2 separate regions of the Homo sapiens genome follow, and region 1 is linked to region 2. The links come from fine-mapping of genetic effects on plasma protein levels. A gene starts in region 2. The other region holds a variant in brackets. All regions are shown on one strand. Distances are from middle to middle. Region 1 overlaps CDH15 (cadherin 15). Region 2 holds the start of CDH15 (cadherin 15).

The links. A credible set is the group of variants that fine-mapping cannot tell apart. PIP is the chance, under the fine-mapping model, that this variant and not a neighbour inherited with it causes the effect. Protein levels are from antibody-based Olink assays in UK Biobank. Linkage for the fine-mapping came from a reference panel and not from the study's own genotypes, which makes the PIPs less certain.
Region 1: its variant is the best candidate, but not a certain one, in a credible set for the plasma level of the CDH15 protein (UK Biobank, PIP 0.71). The variant lies in the coding sequence of CDH15. If it changes the protein, the assay may bind it differently, which can mimic a change of level.

The regions. Positions count from the first base shown.
Region 1 is chr16:89,183,573-89,186,464 of GRCh38, reverse strand. It overlaps CDH15 (cadherin 15), which reads right to left. Exons shown (of 14, transcript NM_004933.3): 4 at 2,773-2,892; 5 at 1,132-1,292. Among named protein-coding and RNA genes, the nearest start is that of CDH15, 13 kb to the right of the region's middle. RefSeq lists a silencer at 790-1,084. The variant C/T (reference allele first, on the strand shown) is at 1,197.
Region 2 is chr16:89,170,542-89,173,433 of GRCh38, reverse strand. CDH15 (cadherin 15) reads right to left here and starts at 1,686. Exons shown (of 14, transcript NM_004933.3): 1 at 1,561-1,686. The coding sequence starts at 1,602. RefSeq lists a silencer at 1,611-2,250.

The sequences.
Region 1 (2,892 bases), 13 kb before region 2:
AGCACCTTCTGTGCGCTGGGTGAGCCTTTACAGAGCACCTACTGTGCGCTGGGTGAGCGTTTACAGAGCACCTACTGTGCGCTGGGTGAGCCTTTACAGAGCACCTTCTGTGCGCTGGGTGAGCCTTTACAGAGCACCTACTGTGCGCTGGGTGAGCGTTTACAGAGCACCTACTGTGCGCTGGGTGAGCGTTTACAGAGCACCTACTGTGCACTGGGTGAGCGTTTACAGAGCACCTACTGTGCGCTGGGTGTTCACAGAGCACCTACTGTGCGCTGGGTAAGCGTTTACAGAGCACCTACTGTGTGCTGGGTAAGCGTTTACAGAGCACCTACTGTGCGCTGGGTAAGCCTTTACAGAGCACCTACTGTGCGCTGGGTAAGCGTTTACAGAGCACCACTGTGCGCTGGGTGTTTACAGAGCACCTACTGTGCGCTGGGTAAGCATTTACAGAGCACCTACTCTGCGCTGGGTAAGCCTTTACAGAGCACCTACTCTGCGCTGGGTAAGCGTTTACAGAGCACCTACTGTGTGCTGGATAAGCGTTTACAGAGCACCACTGTGCGCTGGGTGTTTACAGAGCACCTACTGTGCGCTGGGTAAGCATTTACAGAGCACCTACTCTGTGCTGGGCACCTAGCACACCAGTGAGCTTGGGTCCCTGCCCTGGGGAACCGTGGTTAGTGGCAGGAACAGAAATGGACAAAGACCACGTAACAGTGTAACCAGGAGGGCTTCCTAGAGGAGCTGACTCAAGGGGGGTCTTCCGGGAGCACCGAAGTCCGACAGCAAGGGGCAACAGGGGCCCTGACAGAAGGAGTTAGTTACTTACCAGCGGGGAGCCGTTGCCATGAGGCTGAGAGGGGCGGGGCTGCTTGGGGAGCCCTGCCCTGTGCCGGGCCCCTCACGCCCTACTTGCACCAGACCCCTCCCACCCGGGCCAGCGCGGCTCCTGTCTGCGCATCAGTGGGTTCACCCCATGCCATCTCCTCAGGAGCCAGGGCCACTGCAAGCTCTGCAGTGACGGCAGGGACAGGAGCGTCTGGGGTGGGCAGGCTGGGGGCAGAGGGACCCGCAGGAGATGGGCTGCCCTGGCCGTGCGGGTGTGGAGCTGCCGGGGCGCCACCTCACCTCGCGGTCCAGCCCCACTTGCACTGTGCGGATCTCTCCTGTGAGCTCGTCGATGCTGAAGAGCT[C/T]GGGGCTGCCCTGCTGCAGGATGGAGAACCGCAGCGCTGCGTTGTCCGTCTCGGGGTCGTCGGCATCTGTGGCCTCTGCCCTGGTCACATAGGTGCCTGGGAAGCACAGGGAGGCGTGAGGGCCAACGTCCACAGGGCCGATGGGCTGGGGGCATTGTGAGGGGCGTGGGGGCACCTCGTGTGCACAGGCTCCCCGGTTCCAGCACGGCTGACCCCAGATGGGGCAGTCAGTCCATGCTGCTGTTTGCGTCACCGAGGCGGCCAGCATGCGGCAACCCCCAGGTCGAGATGCTTCCCGCTGCCCCTGAAGCCCACCGTGCTGTGTCCAGGCCACCTATGTGGTCGAAGCCTTTTGCCCGGCTTGTGCTGTTTATGGGGTCGGAGCACAGGAGCATTGGATGCGACCTGGGTCAGGTGCTGGCTCCTGGGCCTGCCCAGTGCAGGGGCTAAGGGCGCTGGGTCAGATTGGGCTAGCTAGCGGGGGCCTCCAGGAGCTGCTGGCATCCAGGGTGACAGAGGATGCATGGGCAGGCTGAACAGAGGACACACGGGCAGGATAAGACAGAGGACGCACGGGCAGGCTGGGCAGAGGACGCAGGGGAAGGATAAAACAGAGGACGCACGGACAGGATAAGACAGAGGATGCAAGGGCAGGATAAAACAGAGGATGCGCGGGCAGGCTGGGTGCAGGACACACGACAGCCGAGCAGAGGACGCGCACTGTGACTGTGTAGGCCAGAGCCCCCGCCCCACCTGCTGTGGGAAGCGGTACTCACGAAGGTGCCGCTAGAGGGACCACATATGGCAGGACCAGGTTTCACCTCCCCCCATTTCCCTCTCCTGAGATTTAGGCCTGACCCCTCTGGCAGCTCAGGTGGACTTAGCCACCGAGGTGGGGTGGGAAGGACGGGCTTTGGGCCACCCTGGGGAGCAGCTCCTGGCTGGCTGTGACTTCCCCCCGGGACAGCTGGAGCTAGGACGTGCTGTCTGTCACCTGGGGCAGAACGAGGCGCGGAGGCCACTGCCACAGACACGGGAAGGAAACTGAGGCGGGATATGAGCCTCCAAGCCTGAGCCTGGGCCAGGCCTGGCCACAGTCCTTGGTAGCCTCAGACACGAGGGGGCCTGTGCCTTTCCACCAGGTCTTTACCACCGGCCCCCAGGGAGGTGGGAGCGAGTCCCCGTGGCTGGAGCTTACAGGTCAGCCTGGGTTTAGGGTGAATCACAACCTAGAGATGCCTGTGGGTGCTCTGGACCCCATGTGAGTACAGGGTGAGGATGGAGTGTGCCTGGCTCCAGATGGCCCCCTCAGCAGGAGGGAGAAGTCATTTGCTTTTGGGGGAGAACAAGACCCCTGAAAAACCTCCACTCCCAGGCTCAGATTTTTGGGTTTGAAATTTATGTTGGAATGGGAAGTGGCAGGAGTTGACCTGTGGAAACGGACCTGCCTCGGAGACTTGTTTACTTATTTTTAGACTCTGAGGGGCCTCTGGAATTCTTGCTTAAGGGAAGTCCTGGACTTCACAGAGCCCTTCCTTGCAGCCCCTCCCGGCCCGGGGCTGTGGTCCTGTCTCACCTGGGACTGCACCCTCCAGCACGCGGCCAGTGAACGCCTCCTGCAGGAAGGCTGGCCGGTTGTCATTCTGATCCACAACTACAATCTCCAGGTCCGTGGGGTCCTCCAGGGTGGATCCTC
Region 2 (2,892 bases):
GAAGGCTTCTGAGGAGGGAGAGGTCCTGCCTGCCTCCCCACCTGCCACAGAGCCCCCTGGGGCCTTTTGAAAGGCAGACACTCCCAAATCCAAAGGAAGAGGTCTGGAGGAATGTTTTCACAGGCGCCAGCCTCCCCACCACCATGCCCTGGGTTGGGGTGCCAGGGAAGAAACCCTGTCCCCAGAGCAGGTGGGGAAGGGCCCTGGAGGCATGGAGCCCCCCAGCCTGCGCTCCCCGGCAGAGGGCTGAGGGGTGGAGGGCCGGGGGGTGAGCACGCATGCTGAGCCACTGTCTCCCCCCACCACTGTCTCCAGATGGGGGAGTCGGGGGTGGCAGGAGCCGTGGTGCCCTCAGGGGCAGCTGCTGGAGGGTCTGGCTGGCCAGGCGCCTGGTCAGCTGCCAGGGGCTGAAATTGGAGCCAGCTGGAGCTGGGAGGCCTGTGGGAATGAGGGGACTCAGGAAGCCCCTTCAGTGGGGGCTGGGAAAGGAGTGGCTTCCCTTACTCACTGTGTCCAGCACTCCCTGACCACCCCAGGACCACAAGAGCAATGAATACTGTGAGCACCGCTAAGCCCTTTATGTGCATTCTCTCTCGAATTGGCCAGAGAGAGGCTGCCCTCTTGTACCCAGTGACGTCCCAACCACAGCCGGCCATGCCCCAGCCCAGCCCAGTCCCTGGGGGCTGAAGCCACTGAGGCCACATCCTCCATGTCTAGGTCCCCCTAGGGTGTGAGGAGACGTGGCTCCAGCTAGGCAGTACCCATGTCGGGTGTGGGGGGCTGAGGCCTGGGCTTCCTTCCACTCTGGCTTGCTCCCACGTTGGAGAGACCACGGTGCCAGCAGTCCAGACAAGATTTTTAGGGGCAGAGTCCAGCAGCCTCTGGGGGCTGGGCCCCCAGGCCTGATCACCCCAGGCAGCTGCGGCAGGGTCCCAGGTGAAGCCCAGGAACAGAGCCCCCAGGGCTGCCACACGCCACTCTGCAAGGCCGTGTGTTGCGACCTGGCTCGGGCTGGGCCCTCCCAATCGAGAAGTAGCCGTGAGGGTGAGTTCCTGGGGGCAGGGCCTGCAGCCACCCCTGCTGGCCAGGAACTTGGGGTGGGGGGTTTGGACAAAACCCAAGACTAGCCAGGGGTCCTGTGCCCACCGCAGGGAGTCCCTATAGAAACCTGGCCCCCAGCCCCCCAGAGAGGGGCACTCCTGCCGCTCCCCCCTCTCTCTGCTCCACTCAAGACTGGCAACCCCCAGACCCCGGCAGCGGTTCCTCCAAAGAGAGGGCACGGCTACCTGGGTGGCCCCTGCCTGGGGTCCCTGACCCCAGCAGCACTCTGCAGTCCTGGGGGTGATTCCACCAGATGGAGTGTTTGGTTACACTCACTCCCCACAACCCCTGGGGTGCTGCCCCCAGCCCAGGGACCCACCCGGAGCCACTCCGCTCACAGGCCCCCAAAGGCGACCAGGGCCAGTGGTTCTGGGGGAGACCTGTGCGGCTGCAGTTGAAGACACTGTCCCGCAGCGTCGAGGGAGGCAGCGGGGACCCCCGCAGGTGCCGATGCCTTACCTGGGCCAACAGCCCGAGGACGAGGAGGAACGCGGCGTCCATCGGGGCCGAGGCGGGAGCCGGGCCGGAGTGCACCCGCGACCCGAAGAAGCGCGTCCAGGCTGAGTGACAGCGCAAGTGCGCGGGGCGGGCCAGGGCCAGAGACAGAGACAGCACGTGTGAGGGGGGCGGGGAGGGGGCGGGGCAAGGGCTGAGTGACAGCACGAAGGAGGCCTCTGACGGGCCGAGGGCCGGCCTGGGCAGGGCTAAGGCTGAGTGACAGCGTGTTGGCAGGCGGGTGGGGCGGAGCCTCTGGCGAGCTAGGGCGGGGCGCAGGCTGAGTGATAGCCCGTGTGCGAGTGGGGCAGGCGGGGCGGGGCCGGGGCCGAGGGCTGAGTGACAGCGCAGGTGCGCCGGCGGGGCGGTGACCGCACGAGGCTGGTGGGGCGGAGCCAGAGGAGGATGGGGCGGGCGGGGCGGGGCCGAGGGCTGAGTGACACCTTGTGAGAGTGCGGGGTGGGGCCGGGGTGGGGCCGGGGCGGGGCCGAGGGCTGAGTGATAGCTTTTGCGGGGTTCCGGCGGGCAGGGCCAGGGCTAGGTCGGAGATACCCCGGCTTGCTGCGTTGGGAGCAGAGCCAGAGGCCAGGCTGTGGGGAAGGCAGGGTGGGTGCGTCCGGGTCAGGGACCAGCTGGGATTCCTGGCTTCTTCATTTCCTGCTCCTTGGGCCCGGCTCGCCCCTGCTCCAGGGAATCTGCATTGTAGTCCCTGCCGGGGGACACCTCTTGAGCACTTCCTTGGGCCCCTCGCCTCTCTGGCTGCGTCTCCTGCGCCTCCCCGCATCCCACTGAACGCTAGGCCCGCCTTCCACGCACCTCCTCGCGACCTCATTTTGCCCAGCTCTTATTCAGTATGGAACTGCTCTGGTTCACACGCCTCTGATACCAGCGTGGCTCGTAGGACACCCCCAATTCCCCCAGTCCACGCACCTCCTCCAGCATCCCCTTGTTCCCCGAGGCCCCCTGCCTGGAGCACCTTCCTTCCTACAGAACTCCTTCTCATCATCCCTCAACACCCAAGGTCAACGCTGCCGCCTCCTGGAGCCTCCTTGCCACCTCGGCCAGAAGCCCTCCCTCCTGTTGACTGTGGCACCTGTTCTCCCCTTCGAGACCCCGCCCCCTGGGATGGTGTGGGTGTGGCTCAACACCTGCACAGGCCCAGCGCACGGTCAGGAAGGTCCTGGAGAGGGGGTGGAGGGGGCTGGAGGCAGGAGGATCCTTTCTTTTGAGCAGGCAGGGTGGGGAGTGGGGGTTGCCGACCAGCCCAGGGCCGGGCCGGGGAGCCCGTTCCTCTCT